Linked DNA regions of Homo sapiens: region 2 is linked to region 1. Evidence: fine-mapped expression QTL. A gene starts in region 1. The other region holds a variant in brackets. All regions are shown on one strand. Distances are from middle to middle.

What was found.
Region 2: its variant is fine-mapped to the expression of TTL in blood mononuclear cells (TOPMed, PIP 0.98).

The regions. Positions count from the first base shown.
Region 1 is chr2:112,478,235-112,486,567 of GRCh38, reverse strand. It overlaps TTL (tubulin tyrosine ligase), which reads right to left and starts at 4,412. Exons shown (of 7, transcript NM_153712.5): 1 at 4,067-4,412; 2 at 573-651. The coding sequence starts at 4,223. RefSeq lists silencers at 3,642-3,741, 4,302-4,691 and an enhancer at 5,012-5,081.
Region 2 is chr2:112,534,428-112,542,760 of GRCh38, reverse strand. It overlaps TTL (tubulin tyrosine ligase), which reads right to left. Exons shown (of 7, transcript NM_153712.5): 7 at 1,022-8,333. POLR1B (RNA polymerase I subunit B) reads right to left here and starts at 296. Exons shown (of 15, transcript NM_019014.6): 1 at 90-296. The coding sequence starts at 266. LOC105373562 (a long non-coding RNA gene) reads left to right here and starts at 549. Exons shown (of 2, transcript NR_136321.1): 1 at 549-558; 2 at 683-1,105. RefSeq lists an enhancer at 264-413. The variant G/A (reference allele first, on the strand shown) is at 3,468.

The DNA of each region.
Region 1 (8,333 bases):
GCCCAGATATCCTTTCTGAGGGACCCCTTACAGCCATGAGAGAAGGATGCTACGGGCTATATATGCCCTTCTCTGGGGACCAGCCCCTGCCCAGAAATGCCTGCGAAGCTAAGCCCTCCATCTCTTCCCACAGCCAATGGCTGACTGATACTGGAGCATAGAGGCCTGGTCCTTGCTCAAAATGTGACAACTCTGAGGTGCCATTCACTCTGGTGCTCCTTGGAGTCAGGAGAGGCAAGACTTCAGCTGAAACCACCTCTTTACTTGGTTCTCCCCCTGCCCTGCCCTGTCCTTGCTTCCCGATGGCTGTCTCTTAAGAATCCTACCCCAGGAAATCACTTACACAGGAGACCCTGAGTCAGGCTCTGCTTCTAGGAGCCTCACCTCAGAGGCAGACAGGCTTTATCAAGCACCATGTTTTGGACCGCAACCAAAGCGGCTTAGAGGAAGCTTCTGAACTGATATTTGTTGGCTTTTAAAATAAAAGTATGTTTGTCCTTTAAACAACCCCACATTTTTGCCTAAGTGCTTCATTTAGGTAAAAAATGGAAAACAGCGGTCTTAACACTTACTTCACTAAAGAAGCTTTGCGACACAGTTTGTCAGCACCCCTGTAGTAATTCACCAACTGTACCAGCCCGGGCTCGTGACCTAGGAAGGAAAGAGGAGGCTCAGAAGGGACACAGGACACAGCAAGCAGGAGAGAGGACAGCTGTGTCATGCCCAGCTTTTCTCTCTCTCATCTCAGGATTGGCTGTTAGAAAATGGAAAATGGAACAATTTTGTTTCTCTGTCCCCAGGGACCCTCTTTCTCTCAGTATTCCGCTGGCAACCTTCATTCTCCCCACAGTGGATATTATATCAACATCGTAGGTTTGCCAAAACTGCTGCTACCTTTGTCTGTTTTTTCTTGTTAGGGTAGAGGGTATTGAGGGTATTTTTTCATTTCACCTCTCCCTGACTGCACACTGCATTCCGCTCCTGGCTTAACACATATAGACTTGTCACTCTGTACAATAAGGCTACTTTAACAGTCACGCTTTCCACATCCGTAACCTGGCTTTCCATACCAAGGAAGGAAGGAGAACTAGAATGATGCTGGTCTCAAGCAAGTCTATCTCTGCAAGCTTCTAGGTGAAGGAAGGTAGTGGAGAGGCCATGTCTACAAAATCAGAAGCCCTGAGAGCTTTCTTCTGTGCCGCATTCCATGGGGAAACTCATTTTCAACAGCTCTTATTACATGTGGCTTTTTTTTATAGAATTAGAGCAGAAAGGACACAAAGAAAAACAATTTTTATTAAAAATAAAAAGTGTTTTCAGCCAGACACAGTGGCTCATGCCTGTTATCCCAGCACTCTGGGAGGCTGAGGTGGGTAAGTCACCTGAGATCAGGAGTTCAAGACCAGCTTGGCCAACATGGCAAAACCCCATCTCTACTAAAAACACAAAAACTAGCTGGGCGTGGTGGCGCACACCGGTAATTCTAGCTACTTGGGAGGCTGAGGCATGAGAATCACTTGAACCTGGGAGGCAGAGGTTGCAGTGAGCCAAGATCCCACCACTGCACTCCAGCCTGGGCGACAGAGCAAGACTTCATCTCAAAAATAAAATAAAATAAAAAATGTTTTGTTTCAAATCTTAATAAAACACACTGTATTTCCAGTAACAAAATCAAAGTAAGACCAAAGGAATTTTCAGTTGAAAATGCCAGAAGAAAGAATAATTTCTCTGAGAATGGCATACAGTCAAATCAAAAGTTTCAGGCAGGCATTAGCTGGCTCTCACTGGTCTCCCTGAGCAGACAGACCTGATTCCCACCTGAACTGCCTACATTCTTATCCACAGGGCACCTGCCTTCCTGAGCCTTTACCTAGCTCTATAAATCTTCTCCTTGGCTTTCATGTAGTACACTTTAAGCAAAAGGTAAATATCCCTTAACAGTGATGGCATATAACCAATTTTGTTGTAGGATGCTGTTTTCTTTCCCATAAAAACCAAATGTTGGCCGGGCACGGTGGTTCATGCCTGTAATCCCAGCACTTTGGGAGGACGAAGTGGGCGGATCACCTGAGGTCAGGAGTTCGAGACCAGCCTGACCAACACGGCAAAACCTTGTCTCTACCAAAAATACAAAAAATTAGCTGGGCATGGTGATGCGCGCCTGTAATCCCAGCTACTTGGGAGGCTGAGGCAGGAGAATTGCTTGAACCCAGGAGGGAGAGGTTGCAGTGAGCCAAAATTGCACCACTGCACTCCAGCCTGGGCGACAGAGTGAGACTCTGTCGCAAAACAAACAGACAAACAAAAAACAAAACTACAAAAAAAAAAAAAAACACATACAAACAAAAAGCTCAAACGTTTACTGATCATCTCCTGAATTTGTGGTATCTGTTCAGGATTCAAATTCTGGAGGCTTCTGCTTCTCACTCCTAGGCTTAAGCACCAGGGTAATGCCAGTCACTCCTACCTCTGCCTGGGCGGAGCCATGTTTGTTGTTTTTAATGTTATGATTCCACCTAAGCTTTCACAGCTAGGCACTGCCAAGAATATAGAGGGAAGTCAGGAAGTCTGGAAGGGGAAGTGGACAATGCAAGGAACAAATAATTGTTCTCAACTATAAGCAATTCTTCCTCTCCTTTCAGATCATGAATTCTCTTTGCTAGGGTCTTCCTGACACCGGTTAACCAAAGGGAGCCTCCAGGCACAGTCTCCATATTCTAAGATTTCTGGGTGTTCAAATGGGTCCTTCCATGGAGTCACCATTCTACATCATAAACTTGTATACCAATGAAAAGTTGTCCCAGGTACTATTCAAAAGAAGAAAATCCAGCAACTTTACACTGCAGCTCTTCATTCCTCCAACGATTTGAGTTTTACACAGCCCCCTCCCAAAGGCTCTGTCTATGGAAGCTCATAAATGACCAGTCAATTCCAAATGGCCCGTATTCAGTTTTTACCCATTTGAATTCTGACCACACCTATTTCTAAAAACTGTTTTCTCTCCTGGACATAGAACATTGCTCTCTCTGGGTTGCCCTCCAAGGTAGAGGTGACTCTTCCTCCGTATCGATTCTCCCCTTGTCTTTGGAATACAATTGGCCCCCACCTCTGGTGAATTCTGGCAAGGAACATGGCTCCCCGGAGAGAAGATGCAATTCCCAGATGACTGTGCAGAGAGGGAGGCCATGAGACTATGCTCAGGTCAATAGGATGTGAGTTGAACCGATCTGGGCAACTTCTGGATGACATCACTTACAAAGGAGCCGCTAGTCCCCTCCTATCTCCTGCGCTTTCCTACCCGTGGACATGTGGGTATGGTGGTGCCCAGCCAGCTTCAACCATGTGGATGAAGGTAATTCCCTCGGGGAGAGCAGGGAAGACAGGGAGGGCGAACGCAGCCTCGTGTAAGATCTTAATCCAATGCAGAACTGCGAAAACACATTATTTGGTGAAACTAAGGAAAGGTTTATAATCAGACATCCCTCCACACTTCCCTGGGCTAGGGTCTCTTCTGCAGCTCCTGCTTTTGGAATCCGGGGGTCTTTTCCAAATCCTCTGATCGCTCCTCCGCGCCTTCGGGGGGCAGAAGCCTCAGGGGTTTCAACACCTACGGCTCCCCCGCCCGCGCCCACGCCAAGCAGGGAGAAATCCTCAGTGCAGACGAGCTGCAAAAGATGACTCCAGCCGCCCGCTCTGCGGAGCCGCGCCCAGCGCGGCGGACCCGCCAAATCTGGGGGCTTCGGCCCGGGGGAGCCGCTAGACTCGCGCCTCAGGTCCCAGCCCCGGCGGCCAGCGTCTCCCGGGCTGCAGGGACCGGTCACCGTCGGGAGGTAGCTGCGGCCCCGAGTGGCCGCACCGCGACTCCGACTCTAAATCCAAGTTAGGAGACAAGAAAGCATTAAAAACGACAGGTTTCGATCTTTCCGAATCCGTTTCTGATGTGCCCGACAAGCGACAGAGGAGAAAATGTATGACCTTTAAAAACAAAAGCGCCGGTTCTAACGGGCCGCGGGAGGCGCGCAGGGCCGCTCCGAGGAGGGCAGACGGGAATCGGGGAGGGGCTCACCCAGTCTCCCGAAGGGCAGCCGATTCCTCTCTCCCAGCATCAGGTTGAATCTGGGGTTGTCTCGCCGCAGCCTCTTCCAGTGGCCGGTGGCGAGGAGCAGCCGGGAGACCTCGGCGTAGACGCTGCTGTTCTCATCGCGTACCACGAAGGTGTACATGGCGAAGCGCCGCGCGCCCGGGCCGCCGGGCAGCCGCCGCAGGGACCAGGCGGCCGAGAAGGCGGCTCAGCGCGGACCCCGCCCGGGCGCCCGCCGCGGCCCGGCCCCCGCCGCCCGCGCCGGCTACCGCGCCTCTCGGGTGCCGGCGGCGCCGCGCCCGGGCGCCCGCCGGGTGCCGGAGAGGAAAGCGCCGCTCGCACGCCCGCCCCCGCCGGCGCGGCCCCGCCTCTGTCCCGTGATTCCGCGCGGCCCGGCCCCGCCGCGCTCTGGAGGAGCCCGTGGGCGGCGGCGCCGCGCCCTTTCCGTACCCTCCCCCGGGGGCGGCGGCGGCGCAGGGTTGGAGACCCGCGGCGGTGGGCGCGGCTTTACCGCAGCGGGCGGACTGTGCGGTGGAACCGGAGCCCGGGCCTGGGGTGGTTCTTTCCGAGCCCCGGGTCGCAGCCGGGGGGCGGTGCCGGCGGAAGATCCCAGTTTGCAGGGCTCGATCTGGGTTTTTCTTCTATTGCCAAAGGACCTTTAATGGATAAAACCCAAAAGTTCTAAGGCCCGGTCCTGTGGCCTAATGAAGAAGCGCTTCCTCTTCCTCTTTGCTTAACGACTACGGAGACCCGGAGCGTCGGTTTTGTTTGTGTCGAGTGCTCCTTCCTTCGGCTGAGCCCAGGGTGGCGCACGGCCAAGGGGATGACCTTAGACTCTGCTGGTGGAAGCAGGTCCCAAACCGACCCCCTGGAGCCCTGGGCTCCGCTCTTTTCCTGCCTTTTACCGGCATTCAGCCACTTGCTTTCCCTTCTCCGGACCTCGATTTCCCCTTATGAGCGGCGGAGAGTGGCTCTTAAAAGTCCCTTCGGTTCTGATAGCCCACTCTGAAGACTGTGCTGCTGCATTTGAGATACAAAGAGAAGGCAATGATCATCAGAGCTCCCCCAAACTTCCTACAGTCCCTCATAAATTACCCACATCAGCCCTGCGCCTTGCATCTTTTACTCTCCTGTAGATAAAGAACACCCTGGGGCCTCTCCCCTTCCTGTCCCCCGATGCTCACGGTATCTACCCGAGCACATTGTAAAAGCGCCCTTCTCCTTCCCATCGTTGCCCAGATTCCACGGGGCCGCCAGGCGCTCACTCGCCTGTCTTGCGCACCGGCTCCACCTGCAGGCAACCGCTGGCTGTGGAGAGCCCGCTCAGAGCAGAAATGGGGCAGACTTAGAGGTGCTGGGTGCTTGCACTCCTTCCCAGCTGCTCTCCCTCCACGAGGGATAGAGTTGGTCGAGAATGCCCTGGCCCTCTCGCCCTCCGCACGTGCCCTGCGGGGAGGCGTGTGTCCTAGGCGTATTGCGGTGGTCCTCTGTAGGCCACGGCTGCGGTTGTCCACAGCTGCAACTTGCTCATCAGGGCATCTTCTGTTGGCTTCCTTCCTTTCCCTGACTACCGATGTTTCCTGGGATCACCTCCCAAAAAAACTACTGTACTCGTGCTCAAATTCTTGTTCCAGGGGGCACCGTTTGGGGGAACTCGAGCCAAGACGCTGTGTTTGCCGCTCTTCACGGCTGATCACCTTGAAAGTGACGTCCACTCCCACCATGCTGCATCAATTCCTCCTGCGACTCCTACTGACGACTCCTGTGCCACAGGTGGCTTCTCTCTGCCACTCCACAACCGTGGATCTCATTAGGAACACCAGTGACCTTTGAATTTCCAAATCCAGAAGCTACCTTTTTCCTTTTTCTCACTTTTTGTAGCGAGCACCATTTTTGTTTCTTTTAGCTGTAGGTTCTGTACGGTACTACTTATTCCCCACCCCACTTTTTTTTGAGACAGGGTCTCACCATATTGCCCAGGCTGGTCTCGAACTCCTCAACTCAAGCCATCCTCCCACCTCAGCCTCCCAAACTGTTGGGATTACAGGCGTGAGCCACCACACCCAGCTTATTCCCTTTTCTTTGTAAGGTAACTCATCTTTCCTCCTTGGAACGTGTGTGTGTGTGTGTGTGTGTGTGTGTGTGTGTGTCTGTTAGGGAGTCTTGCACTGTCGCCCAGGCTGGAGTGCAATGGCGTGATCTCAGCTCACGGCAACTTCCACCTCCGGGTTTCAAGAGATTCTCCTGCCTCACCCTCCTGAGTAGCTGGGACTACAGGCACAGGCCACTATGCCTGGCTACTTTTTATATTTTTGGTAGAGACAGGGTTTCACCATATTGGCCAGACTGATCTCCCAACTCCTGACCTCAAGTGATCTGCCCGCCTTGGTCTCCCAAAGTGCTGGGATTACAGGCATGAGCCGCAGCGCCTGACCCCCTTGGAACCCATTTTTTGTGGCTCTTGTGGGATTAACAGTGTCTGTTATTGATAAAGGAAATGAATATCCAGGCTTGGTCCAACAGGATTACTCTCTATCCCTTTTGCCACAGCGACTGGTAAAACGTAGGAAACTGGTCCAAATCAGACCAATCTGATGGAACACTATCTGTGTGGGACAGCTTGCCACTGTCTTGCTGTCTTATAGGGGGAGAATCTGTTCCGAAAATTCAGCTTTGCCTCCACCCTAGCATTAAGCCCCTAGCAGTAAGCATTAAATGTGGATATGTGAATATACTCTTGCCAGTAGAATGTGAGCAGGTGATATGTATCACTTCCTAGCTTAGACCTTAGAATTTGGATGTGCCCTCTTCTTCTGGAGACAGTACGTACAGTCAGCAGCAATATTGGAACAAAGAATGTAAGGAATTTGCCAAAACTGGCAGTACCCTGGATTATAAAGTAAACTCCAGCAATTTCAAAAGATTGAAATAATTCTGAACACTTTTCTGACAATAGTGGAATTAAGTTGCATGGAGATTAAGTGATATTGTACACTGCTAAATAACCCATGAATCCGTGAAGAAATCACAATATGAGAAAGTATTTTCTAACTGAATGAGAATAAAGATATGGCATAGCAAAACTGGTAGGATACAGCTAAAGCTGTTTTTAATAAAAAAATTACAGTCTAAAGTACATATGTGTTTTTTTTTGTTTTGTTTTGTTTTTGAGACGGAGTCTGGCTCTGTGGCCCAGGCTGGAGTGCAGTGGTGTGATCTCGGCTCACTGCAAGCTCTGCCTCCCGGGTTCACGCCATTCTCCTGCCTCAGCCTCCCGAGTAGCTGGGACTACAGGCGCCCGCCACTACGCCCGACTAATTTTTTGTATTCTTTTTTTTTTTTTTTTTTTTAGTAGAGACGGGGTTTCACCGTGTTAGCCACGATGGTCTCGATCTCCTGACCTCGTGATCCGCCCGCCTCGGCCTCCCAAAGTGCTGGGATTACAGGCGTGGGCCAAGTACGTATGTTTTTAAAAGAAGACTGAAAATCAATTAAGCTTCCATCTCATGAAACTAGAAAAAGAATAATAAGCAAAACCCAAAGTAAGTAAAAGGAAATAAATCCTAAGGGAAGAAATCAAGGAAGTAGAAAATAAATGTACAATAAAGAAATCAAAGGCAAAGGGGATATATTTTAAAAAATTTAAAATTGTTAAGCATTCAAGACCAACAAATGAAAGGAAGAACAATCAAAGTTAAAATGAAAAAGGTCAGATGCAAGAAGATTTAAAAATATTTTTAAACAAATTTTTTAATGAAAAAAGAAACATCACTAGAGATCCTGAAGGTATTAAAAACAATAAGATCCGGCCAGGCGCGGTGGCTCACGCCTGTCATCCCAGCACTTTGGGAGGCCGAGGCGGGTGGATCACCAGAGGTCGGGAGTTTGAGATCGGCTTGACCAACATGGAGAAACCCTGCCTCTACTAAAAATACAAAAAATCAGCTGGGCGTGGTGGCGCACGCCTGTAATCCCAGCTACTCGGGAGGCTGAGGCAGGAGACGGTCTTGAACCCGGGAGGCGGAGGTTGCCGTGAGCCAAGATCGCGCCACTGCACTCCAGCCTGAGCAACAAGAGCGAAACTCCGTCTCAAAAAAAGAAAGAAAGAAAGAAGATCCTATGATCAATTTTTGCAAATGAATTTGACGTGTGGACAAAATAGACTACTTCCTTGAAAAATCCAGTTTACCAAAAATGACACAGAAATACAAAATCTGAATAATTTCACACCTATTAAAGAGATTGATTCTAT
Region 2 (8,333 bases), 56 kb before region 1:
CATGCATCTGGGGTCATACTGTGACCTCCCAGCCACCTCCCTGGGATTGGCCTCGCCGCGGCAAGGGCGCCGGCGGACGCCGCGCTCACCTGCACCGCGAGGCCGAGACCCTCGTGCACAGCGTAGTTGAAGGACTCCACGTGCGCCCGCGTCAGCTCCTGCAACGCTGCCTTTTGCTGTTCCCGCGGGATTCCATAAGAGGGGTCAGTCAAGTGCTTTAGGCTAGGCCCGCTGGGCAGGTTCCGCCACCGGCTGCCAGGATCCATGTGGCCACCTGCACACCGGACGCCAGTCTCTCGGTACACGCCGGACGCCAGTCTCTCGGTACACGCCGGAAGTAGTGGCCGCAGTCCCGTTTCCGCAGCCTGCTGGGAAATGTAGTTCCCTCTCGTTCCACCCGCCCTAGGCCCTGCGGTTTCGGTTTCTCGGGGTCAACGTAGAACCAAAAACGTCGAGTGAACGGGCCGATTAAGGCCGTGTCCAGCCAGAGCGTGGCGGGCCCTCCCTTTCTCCCATATTCCGCCCCACTCATCTCCCCGCTCGCGAAAGATGCCGCAGGTGGAAACCCGCTCCCCGCCCAGTTGAGCATGTGACCTCTTTGGCTCTCATTGGCTCAGTCAATTAGGATCGGAGGAGAGCGGTCTTCTCAGGCTCTCTTCTGTTTCCCTTCACCTGTTCCCAGTCCCACGCTGATGCCGACCCTGGGGAGTCATCCGGCCAAAGTCGTTGCTTCAACGAAAAAGCGGATGCCGGGCCCCGGGCTGACTCTCTACCCAACTCCTAACTCGCGAGGCTCACCCCTGGGAAGCCAAGGAGTGGTCGGGCCCCGCTAACCTCGTCGCATCTTCCGGACTGGAGGCCTGGGGGAGGCCTGGGGAAGGAGGTGGGAGAGGAGTCGGGCGGTCCCGGATGGAGGGGATGGGGCAGCGGGGCGTCCAACTGGATTTACAGCCTGAATTTCTTTTGCGTTCCTGTGAGCCCCTTACCTCCCCAGAATACTGATTAATCAGGGAATGCCTGCTGGTTTTTCAACTTTATTGTGTTTGTGTTTAACAGCTATATTGCGTTATAACTGGCATACAATAAACCACACATTTAAAGTGTACGCGTTAAGTTTTGACCTATGTATACAACCATGCAGCCATCACCACAATTAAAACAATGAATTAAACCACCACTACCCAGTATCCTCCTGCCCCTGATAGTCCCTCCTTACTGTCAACTTCCCCTTTCCTAGTTCAGCTGGTACTTTTCATTCCTATATCACTTTTTATAAAAAATTCGAGCCGGGAGTCTGTTGCACAGGCTGGTCTTGAACTTCCGGCCTCTAGTGATCCTCTCGCCTTGCCTCCCTAAATGCTGGGATTACAGGCATGAGCCACCGCGCGCGCCCGGCCAACTGAGTAGTTGTAGTTCTTTATATAGCCTATACTAGTCCTTGTCAGATCCATGATTTGCAAATATTTTTCTCCCATTCTGTGGGTTTTTACTTTCTTGCTGGTGTCCTTTGAAGCAAAACGTTTTAATTTTGAAGTGTAGTTTTTTTCTTTTGTTGCCTGTCTTTTTATATCATATCTAAGACATCATTGTGTAATCCAAGGTCATGAGGATTTAAAAAAAAATTTATGGGTACATAATTAGCATATTTATGAGGTATATGAGATGTTTTCATATAGGCATACGATGTAATCATCACAGGAGGGTAGATGGGGTTTCCATCACCTCAAGCATTCATCATTTCTGTCATGAACATTCCAATTGTACTTCCTCAGTTATTTTTGAAGGTACAACAAATTATTGCTGACTGCAGTCACCCTGTTGTGCTATCAAATACTAGATATTTTTCAATCATGGGGATTTTCACCTATATTTTCTACTAAGAGTTTTGTAGTTTCAACTCTTACATTTAAGTCTTTGACTCATTCTGAGCTAATTTTTGTATATGGTGTGAGAAAGGCATATCACTTTATTCCTTTGCATGTGGATATCCAGTTGTCCTAACACCATTTGTTAAAAAGACTATTCTTTCCCTCATCAAATTGTCTTGGCCTCCTTGTCGAAAATCAGTTCACTATAGATGCAAGGGTTTATTTTTGACTCTCAGTTCTATTCTCTTGATCTGTATGTCTATCTACATTTATCTGTATATCTGTCTACAAACTACACAGATTTGATTAATACAGCTTTGTAATAAATTTTGAAATCAGGAAGTGCACATCCTCCAACTTTGTTCTTCTTTCTCCAGATTTATTTGATCCTTTGTATTTCAATATGGATTTTAGCGTCAGCTTAGCTTGTCAATTTCTTTCTCTTTTTTTTTTTTTTTTGTTTTTTGTTTTTTTGAGACAGAGTTTTGCTCTTGTTGCTGAGGATGGAGTGCAGTGGCATGATCTTGGCTCACTGCAACCTCTACCTCCTGCCTCAGCCTCCCAAATAGCTGAGATTACAGGCATGCACCACCATGCCTGGCTAATTTTGTATTTTTAATAGAGACAGGGTTTTACCATGTTGGCCAAGCTGGTCTTGAATTCCTGACCTCAAGTAATCCATCTGCCTTGGCCGCCCAAAGTGCTGGGATTACAGGTGTGAGCCACCACACCCGGCCCAGCTTGTCAATTTCTGCAAAGAAGGCTGAGATTCTTGATCAGGATTGTGTTCAATTGGTAGATCAATTTGGGGCCTATTTTCATCCTAACAATAATTATCTCCCAATCCATAAACATGGGATGTCTTTCCATTTATTTAGGTGTTCTTTAATTTCTTTCAGAGATGTTTTGTAGTATTTGGTGTAGAAATGAACTTTTGTTAAATTTATTCCTAAGTATTTCATTCTTTTTGGTGTTGATATAAATGGAATTGTTTTCTTAACTTCAAATTGTTTGTAATATGTAGAAATACCATTGAGTTTTGTATATTGATCTTGTGTCTGGCAATCTTGCTAAACTCTTTATTAGTTCTAACAGCGTAAGTGGATTTCTTAGGACTTTTTCTATATGGTATCTTGTCGTCTGCAAAGAGAGATCATCATACTTCTCCCTTTCCAATCTGAATGCGCAGTCTTCTTTCCTTCCTTTTGTCGAATTGCTCTGTCTAGAACATTTAATACAATGTTGAAGTGACAAGAATAAATATACTTGTTTTGTGCCTGATATTGGGAAGAAAGCTCCCAACTGGAGCTTTCACATCACCATTAATATGATGTAGGCTGTGGGTTTTTCCAAAGATGCTCTTTATCATGTTGAGGAAGTAATTTATTTCTAGTTTGTTGAAAGGTTTTTTCCAAGAAAGAGTGTTGTGTATTGCCAAATGCTTTTTCAGTGTATATTGAAATGATCATGTGCTTTTTGTCCTCTTTTTTCTATTAAAGTGGTATATTATATTAAGTAAATTTTGTATGTTAAAAAAACCTTGCATTCTTTCTTTTCCCCTTCTCAACGTTTATTTTAGAATCAGGGGGGTACATGTGC[G/A]AATTTGTTACAAAGGTATATTGGGTGATGCTGAGGTCTGGGGTATGGTTGAACCTGTCACCCAGGTAGCGAGCACAGTATCCAATAGGTAGTTTTCAATCTTTGCTCCCCTCCTTCTCTCCTGGCTCTAGTAGTCCCCAGTGTCTGCTGTTCCCATCTTTTTTTTTTTTTTTTTTTTTTTTAGACAGAGTCTCTGTCACCCAGGCTGGAGTGCAGTGGCGCAATCTCGGCTCACTGCAACCTCCGCCTTCCAGGTTCAAGTGATTCCCCTGCTTCAGCCTCCTGAGTAGCTGGGATTACAGGCGCCTGCTACCACGCCCGGCTAATTTTTTGTATTTTTAGTGGAGACGGGGTTTCACCATATTAGCCAGGATGGTCTTGATCTCCGGACCTCATGATCCGCCCGCCTTGGCCTCCCAAAGTGCTGGGATGACAGGCGTGAGCCACCGCGACTGGCCTCTTCCCAACTTTATGTCCATGTGTACCCAATGTTTAGCTCCCACTTTTTAATTTTTTTGAGACAGGACTTGCTCTGTCACCTAGGACAGAGAGCAGTTGTGCGATCTCTGCTCACTGCAACCTCCTCTTCTCAGGTTCAAGCGATTCTTGTGCCTCAGCCATCAGAGTAGCTGGGATTACAGGCATGCACCACCATGCCTGGCTAATTCTTGTATTTTTTATAGAGACCAGATTTAATCATGTTGCCCAGGCTGGACTCAAACTCCTGGCCTCATTTGATCTGCCCACCTTGGCCTCCTAAAAGTGCTGAGATTATAGGAGTGAGCCACCGTGCTCAGCCTAGCTTCCACTTACAAGAGAACATGAGTTATTCCAAACTTTGTAATCTTAGGATAAGTCCCACTTAGTCATAATGTATAATCCTTTTTCTATGTTGCTGGATTTGGTTTACTAGTATTTTGTTGAAGATTTTTTCCGTTTGTATTCCCAAGAGATTATTGGTCTGCTATTTGCTTTTCTTGTGACATCTTTGTCTGGTTTTGGTATCAGGGTATTAAGAGTGACCTCATAAAGTTGAGGACACTCTTCTCAATTGAGGAGTATTTTCTTCTCTTCTATTTTTTAGGAGACTCTATGAAATATTGGTGTTAATTCCTTACCATCTGGCTTACAATCTGGTCCTGGGCTTTTCCCTGTGGGAAGTTTTAAAAGAATTATTATTAGTCCAACCTCTTTACTTGTATATTTCTTCATTAATACAGAAATTAACAAAATTTGTTACTGATTTCTGATTTTATTCCAACATGGTCAGAGAACATATGTAGTATAATTTCAATTCTTTTAAATTTACTGAGACTTGTTTTATGGCCTAGCATGTGATCTACCCCAGAGAATGTTCCATGTGCACTTGAGAAGGATGTGTATTTTGCTGCTGTTGGGTGGAGTGCCTTGTAGATATTTGTCAAGTCTAGTTGGTTTATAGTGTTTTCTATTTTCTTGTTGATCTTCTGCCTAGTTGCTCTAGCTATTATTGAAATGGAGTTTTGAGGGTTCCAACTATTGTAGTTAAATTGTCTGTTTCTTCCTTCAATTCTCTAAGTTTTTATGTCATGTATCTTTAGGCTGTATTGCTAGGTACATATGTTTATAATTGTCATATTTTCCTAATGGACTGACCCTTTTATCAATATAAAATGTCCTTGGCATACAAGTGGCCAAGAAACATATGAGACAATGTTCATCATCACTAATCAACAGAGAAATGGAAATCACAACCACAATAAGATATCATCTCACGCCAGTCAGAATAGCTATATTAAAAAGTCAAAAAATAACAGATGCTGAAGAGGCTAAGGAAAAAAAGAGAATGCTTATACACTGCTGGCAGGAATGTAAATTGGTTGAACCACTGTGGAAAGAAGTTTGGAGATTTCTCAAAGAATTTAAAACAGAGCAGCTGGGCATGGTGGCTCATGCCTGTAATCCCAGCACTTTGGGAGGCTGAGGCAGGTCGATCACCTGAGGTCAGGAGTTCAAGACCAGCCTAGCCAACATGGTGAAACCCTGTCTCTGCTAAAAATACAGAAATTAGCTGGGCATGGCGGCACACGCCTGTAGTCCCAGCTACTTGGGAGGCTGAGGCAGGAGAATCGCTTAAACCCAGGAGGCGGAGGTTGCAGTGAGCACAGATCACACCACTGCACTCCAGCCTGGGTGACAGAGAGAGACTCCACCAAACAAACAAACAAACAAACAAAAACAGAGCTACCATTCAACATAGCCTCCCATTACTGGGTATATATCCAAAAGAAAACAATTCATTCTACCAGAAAGACACATGCACCTATATGTTTATCACAGTGCTATTCACAAGAGCAAAGACATGGAATCAACCTAGGTGCCCATCAACAGTGGATTGGATAAAGAAAATATAGTACATATATACCATGGAATACTATGCAGCCATAAAAAAGAATGAAATCATGTCCTTTGCAGTAACATGGATGCTGCTGGAGGCCATTATCCTAAGTGAAATAACACAGGAACAGAAAACCAAATATTGCACAGTCTCATAAGTGGGAGCCAAACATTAGATACACATGGACACAAAAATGGCAACAAGAGACACTAAAGATGACAAGAGGGAGAAGGGAGGGAGGGGTGCAAGGATTGGAAAGCTAACCATTAGGTACTATGCTTACTACTTGGGTAATGGGATCTGTACCCCAACCTCAGGACCCATGTAACAAACCTGTGTATGTACCTCCAGAATTTAAAATAAAAGTTGGAACTATTAAAAAAAAGTCCTTCTTTGTCTATAGAAACAATTTTTTTCTTAAAGTTTATGTTGTCTAACATTAGTATAGCTACTCCACTTCTCTTTGAGTTACTGTTTGCATGGTATATCTTTTTCCATCATTTTACTTTCAACCTGTTTGTGTTTTTGAATCTAAAGTGTGTTTTGCCAGGTGCATTGGCTGATGCCTGTAATCCCAGCTGCTTAGGGGAGACTGAGGCAGGAGGATTGCCTGAGGACGGGAGTTCAAGACCAGCTTGGGAAACACAGTACGACCCTATCTCTAAAAAAAAAAAAATTTTTTTTGGAGAGATATCTGCACTCCCATGTTTACTGCAGCCTTGTTTGCAATAGCCAAGATTTGGAAGCGACCTAAGTGTCCATCAGCAGATGAATGGATAAAGAAAATATATTGCTTATACACAATGGAGTACTGTTCAGCCATAAAGAGTGAGATCCTGTCACTTCCAACAACATGGATGGAACTGAAGATCGTTATGTGAAGTGAAATTAGCCAGGTAAGTTTTGAAGTAAGCCAGGTCCTATCTCTAAAAAAATTGTTTTAAATTAGCCAAGTATGGTGGCAGGCACCTATAGTTCCAGCTACTTGGGTGGCTAAGGTGGGAAGATTACTTGAAACCAGAAGTTTGAGGCTGCAGTGAGCTATCATTACACCACTAGACTCCAACCTAGGCAACAGAGCAAGACTCTGTCTCTAAATAATAAAAATAAAAATAAAATGAAGTGTGTTTTTTGTAGATAGCATATAGTTGGATCATGATTTTTAAAAAAAATCAATTTGCCAATCTCTACCTTCTGATTGGAGTATTTAATTCATTTGCATTTAATGAAATTACTGATAAGGCAGGATTTATCTACCATTTTACTGTTGGTTTCTTTAGGCCTCTTGCCTTTTTTTTCTCCTCTATTTTTCATTACTTCCTTCTCTTTTCTTATATATTTTCTAGTGTAACATTTCTGTTTCCTTGTCATTTTTTACTATATATTTAAAATTATTTACTTAGTGGCTGGTGTGTCTTGAGGTGGACTCTTTGAGTCTTTCCTGCTTAGAATTTGTTGAGCTTCTTGGATTCACTTTAATGTTTTTCCTCAAAGTGGGAAAGGTTTTGGCCACTATTTCTTCCAGTATATGTTTTATCCCCTTCCCTCTCTCTCACTTATCTATTCTAGGACTCCTATTATGTGTATGTTGGTATGTTTGATGGTGTCTGACGGGTGTCTGAAGCACTGATCATTTTTCTTTGCTGATTTTTTTTTTCTGTTCCACAGACTGGATAATCTCAAATGACTTCTAATTTGCTGATTACTTCTTTTACCAGTTCACACATTTTTTAAACTTCTCAAGTAAATCTTTCATTTGCATTTTTGTACTTTGCAACTCTAAAATTTCTACTTGGTTCTATTTTATAAACTAACTTTCTTTCCTTTTTTCTTTTCTTTCTTCTTTCTCTTTTTTCTTTCTCAATCTTTCTCTTTTCTTCCCTCCCTCCTTTCCCTCCCTCCCTCCCTTTCTCCTTCTTTCTGCCTGCCTTTCTTTCCTTTCTCTTTCTTCCTCTCTCTTTCTCCCCTTCCTACCTTTCCTCCCTCCCTCTTTCCCTCCTTCTGCCTCTGTCCTCTCTGTTTGTGCAGACACTTAAGGTCAGACGAAAGAGCTGGGGAATTCTCAGGTCTCTTCTGGGCATGTGCACAGTCCTACACATGTGTGTGGCCTTCTGCATTCTTAGGAATAGGTTGAAGCTTTTCAAAACGTCCTATAGAAATCTCATTCCCAGTTTTTCCTTCTAAGTCTTTTGGTCAGTTTGTTTGTTCCAACTGTTACAGCCACCTTAGGAAGCTGAGATGTTCAACAATTGCTGTTGATTTTTTTTGACAAATGCACCCAGGGAAAAGGTTGTTCACACTGGGTAACCTCTTAGTCACATCAAATAAAGACAAGACCTAGGAGTAGGGACTTACATGGAACTACCAAAAAGGCCAAATGGCAATTCTCTGGTAATGAAGCTTTGGAGGAGTTCCAATCCCCTTCTGAGCCCTACGGTGGCTGCTCTGCTGCTGGATGTCAGCATGATTGTGTGGCCGAGGCTGTTGTG